Linked DNA regions of Homo sapiens. The protein of the gene in region 1 purifies or fractionates together with the protein of each later gene. This does not show direct contact. Each region holds a gene or a part of one and is shown in the gene's direction. Other genes may lie near its edges.

Region 1 (7,028 bases):
TAAACATTTTAGCAAGATGAATCAACAATTACACATAGTACTAGAAGTCCTAGCCAGAGCAATTATACAAGAAAAAGAAATAAAGTGCATCCAGATTGGAAAGGAGAGTCAAATTATCTCTGTTTGCCGATGACATGATCCTATATATAGAAAAACCTAAAGACTCTACCAAAAAACTCTTAGAACTGACAAATGAATTCAGTAAAGTTGCAGGATACAAAATTAATATACTGAAATTAGTAGTGTTTCTATACACAACAAACTAGCTGAAAAAGAAATCAAGAACACAATCCCAATTATAATAGATAAAAGATAAAATACTTAGGAATAAATTAACCAAGGAAATGAAAGACCTCTATAAAAAAAACTATAAAACACTGATGAAAGAAATTAAAGAGGATACCAACAAATGGAAAAACATCCCATGTTCATGGATTGGAAGAATTAATTTTGTTAAAATAACAATACAACCCAAAGCAATCTACAGATTCAATGCAATCTCTATCGAAATACCAATGTCATTTTTCACAGGAAGAGAAAAAAAATCTTAAAATTTGTATGGAACCACAAAGACCCCAAATAGCCAAAACAATCCTGAGTAAAAGGAACAAAGCTGGGGCATTACACTACCAGATCTCAAAATATACTACAAAGCTGTAGTAACCAAAACAGCATAATACTGGCATAAAAACACAGAGACACAGAGAACATAAAATGGAATAGAGAACTCAGAAATTAATCCACATATCTACAACCAACTGATTTTTGACAAAAGAGCCAAGAACAGCCCCTGGGGAAAGGACAGCCTCTTCAATAAATGGTGCTGGGAAAACTGAATATTCATATGCAGAAGGATGAAACCAAGACCCCCACCTCTCACCCCATATAAAAATGAACACAAAATGGATCAGAGACCTAAATGTGGCCAGGTGTGGTGGCTCACACTTGTAATCCCTGCAGTTTGGGAGGCCAAGGCGAGTGGATCACTTGAGGTCAGGAGTTCAAGACCAGCCTGGCCAACATGGTGAAACCCTATCTCTACTAGAAATACAAAAAAATTAGCTTGTCATTGTGGCAGGCACCTGTAATCCCAGCTACTCAGGAGAGGAAGACTCCATCTCAAAAAAACAAAACAAAACAAAACAAAAAACAAAAAAAGACCTAAATGTTAATGCTTTAGGACATTGGTCTGGGAAAATAGTTAATGAATAAGACCTCAAAAACACAAACAACAAAAGCAAAAATAAACAAGTGGGATCATATCAAACCAAAAAGCTTCTACACAGGAAAGGAAACAATCAACAAGAGTGAAAAGACAATCTATAGAATGGGATTTAAAATATTTGCAAACTACTCATCCAACAAGGAATTAATATCCAGAATATACAAGGAACTCAAACATACCAATAGCAAACAAACAAGCAATCTGATTAAAAAGTGGGCAAATGATCTAAACATTTCTCAGAAGAATACATACAAATGACCAAAAAAACATGAAAAAATACTTAACATCATTAATCATCAGGAAAATGGCAAATCAAACCACAATGAAGTATCATCTTACCCCAGTTAGAATGGCTGTTATCAAAAAGACAAGAAAACAAAAAACCAAAAAACAACAAATACTGGCAAGAATGTGGAGAAAGGAAACTCTTCTGTGCCATTGGTGGGATAGTACATCCACTATAGTGAACAGTATGTAGGATTTTTCAAAAACTACAAATAGGGCGACCATATGATTTAGCAACCCCACTGCTGGGAATTTACCCAAAGGAAAGGAAATCATCATATCAAAGAGACAACTGCAGCCTCATGTTTTATTGCAGCACTGTTCACAATAGCCAAGATATGGAATCAGCCTGGGTGTTTAACAACAGATGAATGTATAAAAAAAAGTGGTATATATACACAATGGAATACTATTCAGCAATAAAAAATAATGAAATCCTGGCCAGGCATGGTGACTCACGCCTGTAATCCCAGCACTTTGGGAGGCTGAGGCGGGCGGATCACCTGAGGTCAGCAGTTGGAGACCAGCCTGGCCAACATGGTGAAACCCCATCTGTACTAAAAATACAAAAATTAGCCAGGCACGATGGCAGGCATCTGTAATTCCAGCTACTTGGGGGGCTGACATGGGAGAATCGCTTGAACCCAGGAGGCAGAGGTTGCAGTGAGCTGAGATGGCACCTTTGCACTCCAGCCTGGCCGACAAGGGCAAAACTCTGTCTCAAAAAAAAAAAAAAGAGAGAGAAGAATGAAATCCTATCATTTGCAGTAACATGGATGGAACTGGAGGACATTATGTTTAGTGAAATAAGCCAGGAACAGAAAGTTGAACACCACATGTTCTCATTAATATGTGGAAGCTAAAAAAAGTTGGTCACGTTAAAGTAAAAAGTAGGACAGAGAATACTAGAGGCTGCAAAGGGTAGAGGGAAGGGAGGGATAGGGAGATATTTATTAAAGGATATAAAATTATAGCTAGATAGGAAGAAAAAACTCAAGTAGTCTATACCACTATAGGATGACTATAGTTAACAATATATAGTTTCAAATAGCTAAAAAGAAGGTATTGACTGATCCTAACCCAGAGAAATGATCAGTATTTTAGATGATGGATATGCTAATTATCCCAGTGTGATCAGTATATGTTATATGTATTGAAACATTGCTATGTACCCCACGAATATGTACAATTGTTGTCAATTAAAAAATAAATGAATAAAATAAAAAAGATAAACCAACAGATTTCTGATTGTCATTTACTGTATTAAGTCTACTAGATTAGCACTTCTCAAAATTTTTGGTCTCAGCACCCCTTTACACAATTAAATGATTGAGGATCCCAAAGAACATTTGTTTATGTAAGTTGTATGTATCAATACTTACTATATTAAAATGAAAACTAAGAAATGCTTAAACTATTTTATTTTAAAAAAATTATTACATGTTTACATAACATGTCTTTATGAAAAATAACTATTTTTCAAAACAAAGAATTTAGTGAGTATAGTGTCATTATGTTATACTTTTTGCAACTTGTTTAATGTCCTGGCATAAGCATACACACATAGATTTTCATATTTGTTTACTGCATTCAATCTGCTGTGCTATGTTGTTTTGGCTGAAATATTTGAAGAAAATCCAGCTTACACAGATACATAGCTGGAAATAAGGAGGGGTATTTAAATAGCTTTTTCAGATGATTGTGACTCTCTGTTTGATACTATGCCTAAACTTGATAAGTAGTAGTTTCTTAAATCAGAGCTCCCAGAGTTTTTTAGCACCAGGAACCAGTTTCGTGGAAGACAGTTTTTCCACCAATGGGGCTGGGATTGTTTTGGGATGAAACTGTGTTCTACCTCAGATCATCAGGCATTAGTTAGATTCTCATAAGGAGCATACAACCATGCGCAGTTCACAATAGGGTTTGTGCTTCTATGAGAATCTAATGACGCTGCTGATCTGACGGGAGGCGGAGCTCAGTCTGTAAATGATCACTTTCCCGCTGCTCACCTCCTGCTGTGTGGCCTGGTACCCAGCAGGCCACGTACTGGAACTGGTCTAAGGTTGTTTGATATCTACTTTTGAGGAAGAAGTGTTAAAATGTCCCTCTATATTTATTTCAAAACAATTCATTGTCTACATGTTGGTAATTGTTGAAACTAGGTGATAGGCACATGATAATTCATTATAATATTTTGTGTACATTTTCATACATTAAAATTTTTCTTTTAAAAAAGGTGTTTAAAATTATTAAATATGTCAGTCACAACTTTATTTGATAATCTGTTTTAAAAGTTAATCTTAAAATGTTCTTATGCTCCAGTTATGAAAAAAAAATTACTTTGTAGGCATTTCTGTCCATAACTGTTGTCTGGCAGTATACCTTCGTAACAACCTGCATGTGGACTCCCAGAACCTACAATAAAAGTTGAAAAAAAGCAAAACAAAATATATTGTGTTGTCCTATTAACATTATAGGAACAAAATCTATGGCCAATTACTTTTCTAATGACTCTCCATATCCTTCTCTTTTGGCTCTTGTTCTTTTGAGGATTATTTTTTGTGGGGGTGTCTTTCCTAGATTTTCTGATCTCTATTAAGTCAGTATTTATAAATTAAGAATCTTGCTTTCCCTGTATATAATTATTAGGTCATAATATTAATAATAGTAATTTTAGATTATCTTCCATCTATTACAGGTGGTTATTGGAGATCATGATGGGGTAGTTATGTGCTTTGGCATGAAGAAAGGAGAAGCAGCAGTAAGTATAGCTTTGTGAAGGGGAAAAATGGTTTTCTAAAAGAGAATGCACTATTTATTGAATAATACTAGGTTAAAAATTTCCTAAAATACAGGTAATGGAAAATGGGTTCTGAGGTAAGTAGTTATGTGAGATATGAGTCTGCGGGTAGCACAAAAGTAATTTGCTAGCTAGTTGTAAGGCACCTTTGGCATCCTGTGGTCGTGGGTTACTTTTCTATGCTGTGTAATATATTACCCCAAATTTAGGGCCTTAACACAACACACATTTATTATCTAACAGTTTCTGTAGCACAGGAGTTTGTGCTCAAGGTTTCACACAGCTGCAATTTAGATGTCAGCTGAGCTGTGTTCCTTTCTAGAGTGTGGGGTCTTATTCCAAGCTCATGTGGTTGTTTGCAGAATTCAGTTCCTTGCTATTATAGGACTGAGGTCCCCACTTTATTAACATCTGTAAACCAGGGGCTGCTCTCAATTCCTTGAGGTCTCTGCAATTTCTTGCTCTGTGGTTCTCTTACAGTCCTTCTCACAACATGGTAATCTAATTCATCAAAGCCAGCAGGAAATTTCTGTAGTCTGCTAAGAAAGAATCTTATGTAGCATAATGTAATCATGGAAGCAACTAACCCACAACCTTTTCCACTTAATTTAACCTAATCAAGGAAGTTATTACTATTACATTATCATATTTACAGATCATAATTAGAAACTTAGAATGATGAGTCTGAGATGTGAATTCTAGTATTCATTATATATTATATGGAATTTCCAGAAAGATGAAGAGAATAAAAACTACCAGAAACTCAGTGTTTCCATTATTCATATTCTCCCAGATATCTTATTCTCTGTATATAAAGTCATGGGGAGGAAGTGGAGGAGAAGAAGCTGGTGCAAATAATAAAATGGAAAATAACCACAAAAAAATTAATGAAATGAATATTGTTTTCAGTTAAATAGATATATGATTATAGGTATTAAGTCATACATTCACATTTTCAGTAAATTCTATAGTCCTTTAACTATTAAAATTTATAAAAATTGTAAAGAAGCCAGGAAAGATTAGTTTTAAAAGATGATTGAAGTGTAAAAACATGTTCATTGGACCTCATTAAAGAATTTGCCAAATGGACTTCCCTGTTCGTAGGAGTATTGTTAATCCAATGCCTCTAAAACTTCAGTAGGCATAGGAACCAGCTGGGGAATCTTGTTAAAATACAGATTCTCATTCAGTTGATCTGCTGCATTTTAAATAAATTTAGTGATGCTAACATTGCTGCTTAGTGAACTGTACTTTGAATTACAAGGATTTAGATTTCAATGACATCATTCAAATATGTGTGGGAATATATATTTAAAAGTTAAGTATAGCAAAAAACCTGAAGACCTGCTGAAGTATATAGATTATTATCTAAAATTATTTCTATATAGTGGAACTATAATATTTTGCAAATTTAACATCATAACATTTTCTATTGTAAAGGAAAAAATGCTCACAATAAAGTAATTTGTGTACTTTTTTCCTGAATGATTTTTTTCAGGCAGTGTTCAAGACTTTACCCGGGCCGAAGATTGCAAGGCTGGAACTGGGAGGGGTTATCAACACACCTCAGGAGAAAATTTTTATTGCTGCAGCATCTGAGATTAGAGGCTTCACAAAAAGAGGAAAACAGTTCCTCTCCTTTGAAACAAACCTCACTGAAAGCATTAAAGCTATGTATGTCTTTTGTTCTCTTTTGTATTTTTACATACTTATTTATAATATTTTGGATAGATGTGAGGCAACTAAGTATCATATCTTAATAGGCTTTCTGGAAAATAAAATTAACTAAAGGTATTTTATTAGTCAGAAACTAAATTTGACCTACAATCAATATTAAATTGGTTGTTGAAATTTTTTTAAAGAACTTTATAGTATTTATACAATCATTTTTGACAACTTGGTTCAGTTTGATTCATGATCAAGGTATCAAAAAAATTGAAAATAAATCTAGATATTTAGCTTTATGTTCCTTGGCTATTTTTGATAGTTCTGGTTTTCAGGTAGCATCATTATGTTAAAAGGCTGGCTGTCAAAGTTAGTGATTACCAATAGGGTATAATTTCAGGTATATCAGGTAAGACTCTAAGTGAAATATAGCTCCCTAAATGGCTGCCTGATATGTGAGATTTTGCAATTCAGATTTGAGTTTTTGAATCACAGGGAGCTGAAAAGGGCTTTAAAATTCATCTAATTCATTATTTCTTATATTTGCTACTTAGAAGAATCCCTTGGGCCACTTAAACAATTCCTTGTCCTACCTCATACCTGCCGAATCAAAATAACCAGGAGTAGGTTTTATTTTTATTTTTTAAGTTCTTCCTTTGAATCTAGTGCAGCCAAGTTATATAATCAGCCAGACTCTTAGGCTAGAAACAACTGATTCAGCCCAAAGTTTTGTATAATGCACAGCACATCTCCTGATGTTTGGGATGTAAAACATTGGCTTGGTGAAATTAGATTAAAATTAAACCATGATAAGTGGAAATATGTAATTTCAAATGGTTTAACAAGAATAGTAACACTTTTGAAATACACTTGTATATAGACATGGCCAATGATAATTATGGAATACTGAAAGTAATGTGTTAATAGCATAACTCTACATTCGGACAGTTATATGGATAGTAGTGTGAGAAAGATAGAGAGTTTCTCAGTAACAGTCTCTTCAAGTGGTTTCTTAAATGTTTTTACTAGAGTGGCAAAGATGGGATAGAAAAG
Region 2 (7,028 bases), on another chromosome or scaffold:
TATTATGCCTTCGTTTCTAAATTTTCTCTAAGAACCCAGTGAAAAATTCCCTCATAATCTTTGTACTCTTGTTCATTTGTTTATTAAGTTCCTCTTAGAAGTTAGATTGCTGAGTCAAAAGGTGTGCCCTACTTTATATGTAGCTAACCCTTGAAGAACACGGGGATTAGGGTTGCTAACCCCCCCGTGCAGTTGAAAATTTACATGTAACATTTGACTCCTCGAAAACTTAACTACCAGTGGCCTACTGTTGACTGGAAGCCTTACCAGTAACATAAGCAGTTAACTCATGTTTTGTATGTTATATGGACTCTTACGATAAAGTAAGCAAGAGAAAAATGTTAAGATCATAAGGAAGATAAAATACATTTACAGTACTATACTGCATTTGTCAATACCATAGGTTTACATCGTCTGTTTACAAGATAAATCATCTGTCTGAAATAGGGGACAACCACAGCTGCAGACCTCTATCTACGGTACATCTCAAGCGATTCAGCTTTTCTTATGTCATGACTTTTCTCTGTTTCTTGAGAGCACATCCAGCATCACTAAGCACTTTGTATGGGTTTCATGGTGTTATTCAAGGTTTACGATATTACCCTACACATGATTAAACAAGTATATGTGGAAAAAAACCCAGGAGAGAACACTTGTTACCGTGATACACAGTTTACTGGGAAGTAGTGCAGAAATTGATTAGTGTCACGTGGCGTTTTAAGTGGATCCTCACAACACTTGAGCCCACCACAGCAGCAGCAGATGTCTGTGGTAGTAGGACATTATTATCACGGTAGTACAGTGTAGTCTATGGTAAATTTTATGCAGTTGTGATACAAATTAAAAAGAAAAAAATAATGAATTTAAAAATATGCAGTTGTGAGTTAATATTGCATCTTTACATTTCTGTCAACTGCAGATGTCACCATCTATGGTCAGTAAGTGATTGTGTGCATAAATTTTGATAAAGTTTAACTTTGTATAATAGATTTGTGTTGATTTTATGGTAGTAAATGGATAAAATAGGCTAGTATCTACATATATTTTATGCATTCAGGACATATCTTTTTCTTAGTTTTTTTCAATTTTTATAGGCTGTGGAGTTCATCTGTGAGTTTTCCAAATTGTTATAAATCGCCAAAAAATTTTCCAATATATTTATTGAAAAAAACTCTCTTGTAAGTGGACCCATGCAGTTCAAACCTGTGTTGTTCATGAATCAACTGTATTGCCAAATTTCCTACAGAAATTGTGCATTAATATTCTTACCAGTGGTATATGGCCAATCATATCTCTTTCTCTGCTGCCTAGTCACCCCTAGGTATTGTTACATTATTCCATAAATATTTATTGAACACTTATTATATACCAGGCACTCTTAGAGGTGCTGGGAATACATCTATGAAAACCAAGTCCCTGCCGTCATGGAGATTTCATTTTACTGAGGGGACACAGATAGTAAACAACACTATAAATGTAATGTCAGGTGATAATACAGAGTGTTAGGGGAAAAAATACGGTATTTTTGTTCTTTTAATCTTTGCTGTTTGATAGCCAGATTCCATAAGATGTCATTATTTTTTATTTTTTTATTATGATTCATTTATTCAATAAATATTTATTGAGCATATGCTGTAACCCTGGGGACCAGAGGTGAACAAGATGATAATGGAACTACATTCTACTGTGGAAAGATAGGCAGTAAACAAACTAACAAATAAGAGAACAGTATAATAGTAACTTTGGTGGGATTGGGAACATTTGATTGTGTTTTCAGAGAAGGCCTCTCTGAAGAGTTAATATTTGACCTGAGACTAAAATGACAACAAATTAGTTATAAGATCTAGATGAATAAGGCATTGTCAAAGGGAACAACAAAACCAAAAGTTTGGAGGCGGGAATGAGCATGACTTACTGGAAGAATGGAAAGCCAGTGAGGCTGCAATGTAACGACTGATGGACAGAGTCAGAAGAGATGAGAAGTAGGTAGGTTAGGTTATAGGGCTTTGGAGACCACAATAAGGGATTTGGATTTTATTGTAATACAGTAAGAAATCTTTGAAGGTTTAAGCAGGACAGTGACATGATTTGATTTACTTTTTTTTTTTTTGGAGATGGAGTCTTGCTCTGTTGCGTTGCCCAGGCTGTAGTGCAGTGGTGCGATCTCGGCTCACTGCAACCCCCACTTCCCAGGTTCAAGCAATTTCCCCCACCTCAGCCTCCCGAGTAGCCGGGACTACAAGCACACCACCACGCTTGACTAATTTTTTGTATTTTAGTAGAGACGGGGTTTCACCATGTTGGCCAGGATGGTCTAGATCTCCTGACCTCATGATCCACCCGCCTCGGCCTCCCAAAGTGCTGGGATTACAGGCGTGAGCCACTGCACCTAGCCTTGATTTACATTTTTTAGAGATGACTTTAGCTACTGTGAAAAGAAAAGATGGTAAGGTAGGGAGACCATATAATTTATCATCCAATTGGGAAACTTTTGCAAATGAAAAGGGATGCTAACTGGACCAGGATGTCAAGCAACAGGTGAAAACTGGAACTGTCCCAAACAAAGCAGAAGTGTAGTCACCCTACTGTAAGAGGGGAAGAGTGAAATTAGGGAGATCAGTTAGAAGGTTGGCTGTAGTAGTCCAGGTCAGAAATAACTGTAGCTTGGACTGGAGTGGTGGTACAGACTGGGAGAGTGGAGGGATGTAGATATTTAGTAAATAAAATCAACAGGTCCTGATAACTTGGATGTGGATAACAAGGGAAAGGAAGGAATGAAGAAGGATGCCCTGAGTTCTGGCTTGAGCAACTGAATGCATGTTGGTGTCATGCATTGAAATGAAGCAGACTTGGGAGGAACAGGGTTAGAGGAAAGATTCAAGAGTTCTGTTTTGAAGGTATAAAACTTAACGATGCCTGTGGAATAGCCAACTGGAGATGCCAAGTATAACATTTGTACTGAGTTTAGAGCTCTGAAGAAAAGTCCTGACTAGAGATACAAATTTAGTCTTGTTAGCGCATAGGTTATAGTGAAGTCATTGACCTGGATAAAATCATCTAGGTTGAGGTGACAAGAGGAAGAACATCCAGAACCTAGCCCAAGGGAACACCATAGTGTCCCAAGGGAGGAAGAGCAGCTAGTGAGGTTGGAGATAAAGGAGTGTGCTCACATGCAGTACAGCCAGACATCTTGCTTATGTTTATTGGAAACACATAGGGTATGTGTGCAAATTCCCTATGCTTGTCCTTTGCCCATTTTTCTGTTGCAGTGTTATAATGTTTCTTTTTTTTTTTCCTTTTTTTTTTTTTTTTTTTGAGAGGGAGTTTCACTCTTGTTGCCCAGGCTGGAGTGCAATGGCGCAATCTCAGCTCACTGCAACCTCCACCTACCTGGCTCAAGTGATTCTCCTGCCTCAGACTCCCAAGCAGCTGGGATTACAGGCATGTGCCACCATGCCCAGCTAATTTTATATTTTTAGTAGAGACAGGGTTTTACCATGTTGGTCAGGCTGGTCTCAAACTCCTGACCTCAAGTGATCCACCCACCTCGGCCTCCCAAAGTGCTAGGATTACAGGCATGAGCCACCGCACCCGGCCAACATTTCTTACTCATTTGTTAAATCTACTTATATATTAAAGATTGTTATAGGTGGAACTGTATCTCCTAAAAAGATGTGCTGAAGTTCTAACCCCCCACTACCTCAGATTGTGACCTTATTTAGAAATAGGGTCATTGGCAGATATAATCAGTGAAGATGAGGTTGTGCCGAGTAGAGTGAACCCTTAATCCAACATGACTACTGTCCTTATGAGAAGAACATGTGAAGACACAGGGGAAGAACGCCATGTGACAGTGGAAGCAGAAACCGAAGTTATGCAGCTGCAAGCCAAGGAACACCGAGGACTGCTGGCGACATCAGGAGCTAAGAAAAAGGCATGAAACAGATTCTTCCCTGGAGCCTTCAAGAGAACGTGGCTCTGTAGACACCTTGATTTCAAACCTTTAGCCTCCAGGACTGTGAGGGGATAAATTTCTGTTGTTTAAATCCACCTAGTTTCTGGTAATTTTTACTAGGAAACTAATATAGCCTCTTGTCATACATGTTACAATTTTCTTTCAACTTTCGATTTTGTTTTTTTAATTACAGAAGTTTTACATTTTTATATAGTCAATTCTACCACTCCTTTTCTTTATGATTTCTTAGTTGTCATGCTTATGTCAACCTAAATAACAGACAGCGACTCTCTAAAAAGAAAGTGATATTTATTCAGGAATGGCATTGCAACCGGAGTGTGTGAGCCATAATAAACTATGTGTGTATTCAGGGAGGTAAAGGAAGGCAAAAGCTTTTAAAGGAAAAATGAGGAGGATTACATAATTGTTTTGAGATAATTATCGTTATCTGCAAGGATTAATAACAAGGGTGGCTCCAGTCCAAGGTCGAGCAGGCAGTTGCTGGGCAGATGTCCTCATGGAAGTATTTTTTTCTGTAAGGTTGTGGTTTTTGCAGAGCCTTTTGTGGTACTTATCAGGCATTTGTGCATAATAATCCTCCCTTCATGGCCTTCCCTAGCTCTATTTGTCAAGGTTTTTTTTTTTTTTTTGAGACGAGTCTCGCTCTGTCACCCAGGCTGGAGTGCAGTGGCACGATCTCGGGTCACTGCAACCTCCACCTCCCGGATTCAAGCAATTCTCCTGCCTCAGCCTCCTGAGTAGCTGGGATTACAGGCATGTGCCACTACACCTGGCTAATTTTTTTGTATTTTTCGTAGAGACGGGGTTTCACCATATTGGCCAGGCTGGTCTCAAACTGCTGACCTTGTGATCCACCCACCTCGACCTCCCAAAGTGTTGGGATTACAGGCATGAGCCACCACGCCTGGCCAAGTGACTCCATTTTGATACTGACAACTCACATTTCCCTCATTTGATCAAGATGTTTTCCCAAAAACATTGCCAATCAGCTTGTATAATAGTTCAGGGGTGTGTGTGTGTGTGTGTGTGTGTGTGTGTGTGTGTGTGTGTTGTTTGTTTGTTTGTCTTGAGATGGAGTCTCACTCTGCCACCCAGGCAAAGTGATCTTGGCTCACTGCAACCTCCACTTCCCGGGTTCAAGTGATTCTCCCACTCAGCCTCCCGAGTAGCTGGGATTACAGGCAAGCGCCACCATGCCTAGCTAATTTTTTATTTATTATTATTATTATTCTTTAAGTTCTGGGATACATGTGCAGAACGTGCAGGTTTGTTACATAGGTATACACATGCCATGGTGGCTGCTGCACTTATCAACCCATCATCTACCTTAGGTATTTCTCCTAATGCAATCCCTCCCCTAGCCCCCCACCCCCCAACAGGCCCGGGTGTGTGATGTTCCCATCCCTGTGTCCATGTGTTCTCATTGTTCAACTTCCACTTATAAGTGAGAACATGCAGTGTTTGGTTTTCTGTTCCTGTGTTAGTTTGCTGAGAATGATGGTTTCCAGCTTCATCCATGTCCCTCCAAAGGACATGAACTTATCCTTTTTTATGGCTGCATAGTATTCCATGGTGTATATGTGCCACATTTTCTTTATGCGTCTATCATTGATGGGCATTTGGGTTGGTTCCAAGTCTTTGCTATTGTGAATAGTGCTGCAATAAACATACATGTGCATGTGTCTTTATAGTAGAATGATTTATAATCCTTTGGGTATATACCCAGTAATGGGATTGCTGGGTCAAATGGTATTTCTGGTTCTAGATCCTTGAGGAATCACCACACTGTCTTCCACAATGGTTGAACTAATTTACACTCCCTCCAACAGATTAAAGTGTTCCTATTTCTCCACATCCTCTCCAGCATCTGTTGGTTCCTGACTTTTTAATGATTGCCATTCTAACTGGTGTGAGATAGTGTATCATTGTGCTTTTGATTTGCATTTCTCTAATGACCAGTGATGATGAGCTTTTTTTCATATGTTTGTGGGCCGCGTAAATGTCTTCTTTTAAGAAGTGTCTGTTTATATCCTTCGCCCACTTTTTGATGGGGTTGTTTGTTTTTTTCTTGTAAATTTGTGTAAGTTCCTTGTAGATTCTGGATATTAGCCCTTTGTCAGATGGATAGATTACAAAGATTTTCTCCCATTCTGTAGGTTACCTGTTCACTCTGATGATAGTTTCTTTTGCTGTGCAGAAGCTCTTTGGTTTAATCAGATCCATTTGTCAATTTTGGCTTTTGTTGCCATTGCTTTTGGTGTTTTAGTCATGAAGTCTTTGCCCATGCCTATGTCCTGAATGGTATTGCCTAGGTTTTCTTCTAGGGTTTTTATGGTTTTAGGTTTACATTTAAGTCTTTAATCCATCTTCAGTTAATTTTTGTATAAGGTGTAAGGAAGGGGCCCGGTTTCAGTTTTCTGCATATGGCTAGCCAGTTTTCCCAACACCATTTATTAAGTAGGGAATTCTTTCCCCATTGCTTGTTTTTGTCAGGTTTGTCAAAGATCAGATGGTTGTAGATGTGTGGCATTATTTCTGAGGCCTTTGTTCTGTTCCGTTGGTCTATATATCTGTTTTGGTACCAGTACCATCCTGTTTTGGTTACTGTAGCCTTGTAGTATAGTTTGAACTCAGGTAGTGTGATGCCTCCAGCTTTGTTCTTTTTGCTTAGGATTGTCTTGGCTATATGGGCTCTTTTTTGGTTCCTTATGAACTTTAAAGTAGTTTTTTCTAATTCTGTGAAGAAAGTCAGTGGCAGCTTGATGGGGATAGCATTGAATCTATAAATTTCTTTGGGCAGTATGGCCATTTTCATGATATTGATTCTTCCTATCCATGAGCATGGAATGTTTTTCCATTTGTTTGTGTCCTCTTTTATTTCGTTGAGCAGTGGTTTGTAGTTCTCCTTGAAGAGGTCCTTCACATCCCTTGTAAGTTGTATTCCTAGGTATTCTATTCTCTTTGTAGCAATTATGAATGGGAGCTTGCTCATGATTTGGCTTTCTGTTTGTCTATTATTGGTGTATAGGAATGCTTGTGACTTTTGCACATT
Region 3 (7,028 bases), on another chromosome or scaffold:
AATAAAAGGGGTACGGAAGGATTTTACAGATTCAAATGTAGTTTAAGAGATATATAAGCCAGTTGCAATGTATAGGCCTTAACTGTACTCAGAATCAAACAAAATCAAACTTTTCCACAAACAGAAAACATGTTGGAGAGTATGGACACTGACTGTATATTTGATGTTATTAAATAATTGTGCATGCACAGGAATCAGTTGGGAAACCCGGGGAACAGATGCTGCTGACCTGACAGTGGGGTTTCAAGAAGAATATGTATTTGAGAAATACCTGGACATACCACTGAAGGACTTGGTTACTGGTCAGATGTTGGGACCAGAGCAGGGGAGGAGTCAGACGTATGTCTTGAGAGACACTGGGTGGGTGGAAGAAGAAATGATAAATGAGTTTAGTTTAGAAGTGCATATTAGGTCATCAAGTGGAGATCCTAAGTTAGAAGATGAATATTGAGTTTGGGCTCAGGAGAAGAGGATTGGGCTAGAGGGGTAGTATGAGAGGCAGGTTACTGCCTATTGCACTGAATAAAATCTCACCAAGGCAAAAAGAAGAAAAAACGCTCAGAACAGAACCTTGAAAGTGCCAAAGTTAAGAGGAGAAAGCAGAAAAGGAGATTGAGAAGGAAGAATTTTAGAGCTAGGAGAAAATAGGGGAGAATTTAATGTCATGGAAGCTAAAGGGCAAGATAATTGAGTGGGTAGTTGTCCCAAATACTTTAAAAAAAAAAAAAAAACTGTTCAATCAAGAGAAATGGAAAGATTCTGTGGTCTTTGGCGATCTTAGCAAGAGCAGTTTCTGTGGAGTAAAGGGGCAGAGCCTAACAAGGGGTTATGGGAGGAGTGAGAGGTGAGAAAATGGAAACAATGGCTATGAGTATAAACGACCAGTTAAGTTTAGTTGTAAAAGGAAGATGGGAAAAGAGCATGGTATCTGGAAGAGTTCACAGGGTTTTGAAAATGGTGATTTTTCTTTGTTTTTAATATCAGAGATGCTTGAGCATGTTTCAGTGCTGGTGGTGGAACCAGTAAAGAGGGAGAGGTTGAAAATAAAAATGAGAAAAGGCATACTCAGCACAAAATTACTGAGAACGCAAGAGGGAATGGTCTAGAGCATAGATGAAAGAATGCTCCCTCCATTGACACTGAATGTGGGGGAAGTGGGGCGAGGGTGTGTGCAATTTAGTTAGAGGAAGGTAAAGGAAGTCCCTTAATCATGGCTTTGCTTTTCTTCCGAGCTCTGTGAGGTAGAAGGTGAAGTATACTGCTGAGACGGAAGGGGATATTGGGAAAGTCAGAGGTTTGAAGAGAGTGAGGGAGTTTAACAATCTCTGTGGGAGAGAGAGAGAAAAGATTGTGATAAGGTTGCTAGACAGTGCCTGGGATCCAAGTAGAGATGGTGATTGTGACCACTCTGTAGAGCTGGGCCCTATTTCTCCAGCAGCGCTCATGATTCCAAATGCAAGTCTGGGGCAAGCAGATAGTGAGTCAAGAGATGGGATTTTGCTTGGCAGATGTTATGGGAAGACAGTAGAATAAGAGAAATTCAGACATTAGTAAAAGTGATATATCACTTTTACTTACAGGGATATAAGCCTGATACAGAATTGGCTACTTAGAAGGGATATGGTTAATAGGAGGAAGAAAGTAGAGGAATTGCTAGAGTCAAAGTCTGGCTGAGTTAAGGAGCAGTAGCGGGAGTACTGTGAAGATGATACTCCTCCATCTCTGAATTTGTCTGGATGTGAAAGGCGAAGGTGTAAGTGTAAGTTCTTTAGAGAGAAGCTGGGGAATGGGGAGGCCAGGTTCTTAACAGGTGATCTGCTTAAACACTGAAGTCACCACAGCACTTCTCAGACTTGAATATGCATGTGAATCACCTGGGAGGTCTAGTTAAACTACAGATTCTCATTTATTCAGTCTGAGGCAGATGAGCATTTCTAGCAAGCTCTCTGTTGGTGGTACTGCTGCTTGTCCACACACCAGACTTCGAGTAGTAGTAAGAACCAAGAATGAAGTCAGAAGGGCTTTGGGGGTGGAATGTGCATGGCAGATGTGCTTGATAGCAATAACTGAAGCATACCTTGAGAATGACCCTGCTTGCAGACAACACCTGCATGCGGTTGGGAGTTCTGAGCTAGGGAATAGGGTGGCTAACCCAAAGATCCATTCCCTATCTATAAGGAACATCTGTGCCCCTAACCCATTGTGAAGTGAATGCAGGCCAGACAGGGGATTGAGGCCCTTTGTTTTGGGTTAAATGAAGGTTGCCAGGTGGAGGTTGTTAGGGGGAAGAGTGCTAAGTGAAAATACGATATAAACTGTATACTTTTTGCAAGCAGTTGCCATTTTTCTGCCCAGCCTGCTGCCACTGGGCCGTGCAGTTATCCTGTCCAGCCCACCACCATTGGACTGTATGTAAGGTGCTTCTCCTGCCTAGCTTGCCACCACTGGGCTTGCTCCCCTTTATGTAGCCCCCAACAAAACGCCTTGTCTTGTTTGCTGGCTCTGGGTCTCTTCTTTGGCTTCTTGAACTTGGTGCCATCCCCACTGGAGTTGATAGGGGCTCAGCACAACAGAAGGAAGGCTATGAACTGGGTGCCAGAGACAACAGTGGCTTACAGGCTTGTACCCTGGAGATTGGCCTAAGATAGTGATAAGGAGAGACAGCGTGAATGGCATGGTTGAGTCTCACAAGAGTGCAAGGGAGTAATTTTGCAATAGCACTAGGAAGTGAAGGAATCAGTGACTCCATGTCCTTTTATGCCTATGGAGATTGTGCAAGAGAAAGCAATTTCTACTTTTGGTCTGGAAAGGAGAGCAGTCTCCATACAGGAGAGCTGGGTTTCAGTTAAAGCATAAGTTGTTGTAGAGAATATTCAGTAAAGAGGAGTTTGCAAATCATGGAATCGAATTTAGGAGAGAGTCAGGAATTTGGGGGATTTGTGATGAGTGTATAGGGGAATATGGGTAAACTAAGTTTATAGTTTGGACAGGAAATGAGGACAGTAGAGATGAATTCAGCTGGGATCCTGGAGGTTGGTGAGCAATCAGAGAACTTAAAATTCAGCTGCTTTCTGTGGGGCAAGTCTAATAATCTGGTGTTAAGAGGAAGGCTTGCGAGCTTTCAGTTTTAGTAGTCTAATAAGCTGAAGTGGGCACCAGGTTGCTCTGCACTGGTAAATAAATGATGACTAGATTCTCTAGTTAGAAGGTATACTGTAAAACATTACCTGTTTGGTGGTATGTTCCCTGCAGAATTTGGAACAGTTAAAGGCAGAAATATAAGTGGAAAGTAAAAACTACCCAGTGTTTACTTTTGCCTCTAAATGATACCAGATGTATAAGGCATATGTGTGAGTTAGGGCTCTCTAAGGTAGAGATAGATGACCGTGATAATTTTGATCATAGATATTTCATTGAAGTATCAAGAACCTACTTGTTTCAATAAAATTGCTATAGAATAAACCAGAAAACTAAAAACTACTTGAAATTGGCTTTATTTTTTCCTCCAAGGGTAAAAATTGTAAATATTTTGTAAATACTGTGTATGTGTCACATTGAAATCTACCGTATCTTTGGCAATGCTTAAAAACTATATCACATTATTTGTTAACTTGCATTAGTCAAGGAAAACAGTTGACTTGCTGTAGTAATGTTCTTTTGTAGCTTTATTTACTGTATGCTTTGAGACTGGATCCCATAATTTTTTCCCCGTATCTTTGTTTTTAGTTTCAGAAACCACTAATGATTCGATAATACATGATGTGGTTGAAAATCATGTTGCAGACCAACTTTCATCAGACATTACACCAAATGCTATGGATACGGAATTTTCAGCATCTTCTCCAGCCAGTTTACTGGAACGGCCAACCAATCATATGGAGGCTCTTGGTCATGACCATTTAGGAACCAATGACCTCACTGTTGGTGGATTTTTAGAAAATCATGAGGAGCCAAGAGATAAAGAACAATGTGCTGAAGAGAACATACCAGCATCTTCACTCAACAAAGGAAAGAAATTGATGCATTGCAGAAGCCATGAAGAGGTCAATACTGAACTAAAAGCACAAATAATGAAAGAGATCCGAAAGCCAGGAAGAAGTATGTATAATAAGAGACGAACCTCAGATCTGATTTCTGTATGTGCTCAAAAAGCAAAAAAGAAAAAAAAAGTCAAGTAACTGTAGTAAAAGAATACATATGATTCTAGATCTGTCTTGAACAACATCTCAGTTAAGATCCTTTATTCATCTGACCAACACCAAATATCTTCTATTTCCAAGGTACTAGGTATGGTGGTAGGCAGCAGGGACTGAGAGCAGAGCAACACTGTACAGATAAATTGACAGGAACCCATAGTCTTGAATATTCTGACCAACGATGGAATTTTAATATAGCAGCTAGCTCACAAGAGATATAGTGAAAATTAAATGACTTCATGTCTGTAAAGTTCTTGTCATAGTGCCTACCACTATGTTTAGTAGTTAAACTGTGATATTATAGGATATGTTTAGGCCAAAAAACTAAAGTTATGAAAGCTCTCTGGTATATGAACACAAAAGAACTTCGTGGGAAAAAGTTCAGTATTATTGGCATTCATTTAGAGGATGTTAACAGATCACTTGCCCTGGGGTAGTAGAATGACCTGGGTGGTCCAGAAATGGGAACAAATCAGTCCTTGGAGTTCAGACGTTTATAGCCCTTGCAGAGTTTCATATGAAAACTTTAAACTGAAATAACACTCTTAACCTGTCTGGTTTTTACCCCCACTTCCCAGTTACCCCCATGTTAGCTGTTAGAATTTTAAACTGTAAGGATGGAGTTTTGTAAAGGCCACTTGTTCTTATTTTTTAGTGATACTACCATAAAGCTATTTACTCATCCTTTTAAGCTTTATGTTTGATACCTTAATAGGAACTTTTACTTACAAAGCAGGGTTTGATTAGTTGTTTTATCTTTGTTGCTGTGTACTTACTTTTACATATATGTTAAAATATAAAATCTCTAATGAGTGGTGAAATTTTTATGTAGAATGTTTTTATCTCAGTATATCTTAATATCATAAACTGCAAAAGAAGAATATTGAATAAGAATACAAATGAAAGGCACTTAATTTTTCTTTTTGTTTCTTTTGCTTTAAGAATATGAAAGAATCTTCACTTTACTGAAGCATGTGCAAGGCAGTTTACAAACAAGACTAATATTTTTACAAAATGTCATTAAAGAAGCATCAAGGTAAATAAACTATTGCATATAATGAAATGGTGATGAAATGAGTCCACAGTTTATATAGGCAGTATTTTAATAGTATCCGTTTTGCACTTGTATTGTTTATAAATGTATATGGCATACCAACATATAAATAAATTCTTATTCTTTTTTAGTTTATTGAAAGAAATTCACTTAGAAAACAGCCACACATACATTCTTCAGGAATTATGGACCTTTTCTCCCTACAAATTACTGGATACTTGGAGAATTCTTGTTATTCTTCTCTGTAGCTTTTTGATATCTTTACATTAATATTTTATAACCTTTAATTTTTCTCCTTTATACATTAATATTGGTGACTAAAAATAACGTACTTGAGTGTCATTTATTTTTACATGGGAAAACGTAATTAAGGAGACAAGAATTGGACAAATGGGCCTTATTCTGATTGTTTCAGTAGCCCAGGATCATTAGTACATTGGCCCTCTGTATCCCTGGGTTCCACATTCATTGGATTCAAGCAACCACAGATTGAAAGTATTTGGAGGCGGGGAAATGGATGGTTGTATCTGTATTGAATATGTACAGGCTTTTTTTTTCTTGTCATTTTCTAAATAATTCAGTCTAATTCATATCGTATTTACACTGTATTAGTATTATAAATAATGTAGAGATTATTTAGAGCATATGGGAGAATGTACATAGGTTACATGCAAATATTGGGCCATTTTATACAAGGGACTTGAGCATTCGTGGATTTTAGTGTTCATAGGGAGGCCTAGAATAAATCCCCCATCCATACCGAGGGATCACTGTGTAAAGAAGGTGGATAAAGGTTATAAATGGTAATTAAGAAGTGCAATTAACTGGAAAACATAGTTGTATGAGTTTAAAAACATTTTTTATTTTCCCTTCAAGATTTTGGGGATTTTAGTATTATAAGAAAACTTGGGGCTTATCACATCCCACCTTCTAAATGTAAACACACTTATACTTTGTCCCCCTGTCTCTTCTATGCTACACATGAAGATTTTAGATAAAGTTGGTTTTGTTTCTGGTTTTCTTTTCTTTTTGTACTTTTGGAGTGGCTAGAGCATAGGCCAGTTTGCAGGATCAAGATAAGGCTATAACTTTTCATGTAATTTTGAGTATTTAACCTATTATGCTCTTTATGGTAACATTCTGTCAGCTAAAACCTCATTAGGAATTTATATCCCCGGTATCTGTACTTCACTTCTGCCACCTTTTAGAGAGTTGTGTAGTATTATGGTGGCTATTTATATTAGCTTCTAAGTAGCAAGGAAGTAGGAATAAAATGTCCAGTGTCTTGGGATATTCTTAAAACCGTCAGCAGTTACGTATACAGATGCAATTTTAGTCTGTCCATATTTGTTACTGAAAATCTTTAAAAGTTGTTACTTGAACTTTAACTGCTTGCTATACTCTGTATTATAGATGTCTATCCTTGATTTGCTAGCTCTCAAATTGTAATAGAATACCATGGTTTTTAAATGCTGCTGACCAATTTTCATTTCTTCTTCCATTTTGTGGGAGATTATATTCATACTTTGTTCACATTCCTTTCAATATTCAGCTTACAAAGAGCATGAGAAGAAGCTATTGAAGTATTTGCTTGGGGAGCCCAAATTTCACTAGAGTGTTTGCAGCCCTTGAATATATTTTGAATATATTAGTTTTTTGTTTTTTTGTTTGTTTTTTCCTTTTTCTTTTCGGTTGTGGAAGGAACAACCTCTTTCCCATTGTTTAGCCCTAGAGTGTTTTAGGGACAAACTATAATACTGTACTAGGATAATAATTTG

The links.
Region 2: the proteins of BBS7 (region 1) and SIMC1 purify together in Homo sapiens (affinity purification with mass spectrometry; 2 studies listed by BioGRID and IntAct, with this or other methods). This does not show direct contact.
Region 3: the proteins of BBS7 (region 1) and INTS6 purify together in Homo sapiens (co-immunoprecipitation; 3 studies listed by BioGRID and IntAct, with this or other methods). This does not show direct contact.

What each region holds. Positions count from the first base shown.
Region 1 is NC_000004.12:121,860,460-121,867,487, reverse strand, and holds part of BBS7 (BBSome complex member BBS7), read left to right. Parts: intron 1-4,208; coding exon 4,209-4,271; intron 4,272-5,808; coding exon 5,809-5,984; intron 5,985-7,028.
Region 2 is NC_000005.10:176,241,424-176,248,451, forward strand, and holds part of SIMC1 (SUMO-interacting motif-containing protein 1), read left to right. Parts: intron 1-7,028.
Region 3 is NC_000013.11:51,366,009-51,373,036, reverse strand, and holds part of INTS6 (integrator complex subunit 6), read left to right. Parts: intron 1-3,726; coding exon 3,727-4,098; intron 4,099-5,138; coding exon 5,139-5,232; intron 5,233-7,028. UniProt on the Homo sapiens protein: Component of the integrator complex, a multiprotein complex that terminates RNA polymerase II (Pol II) transcription in the promoter-proximal region of genes.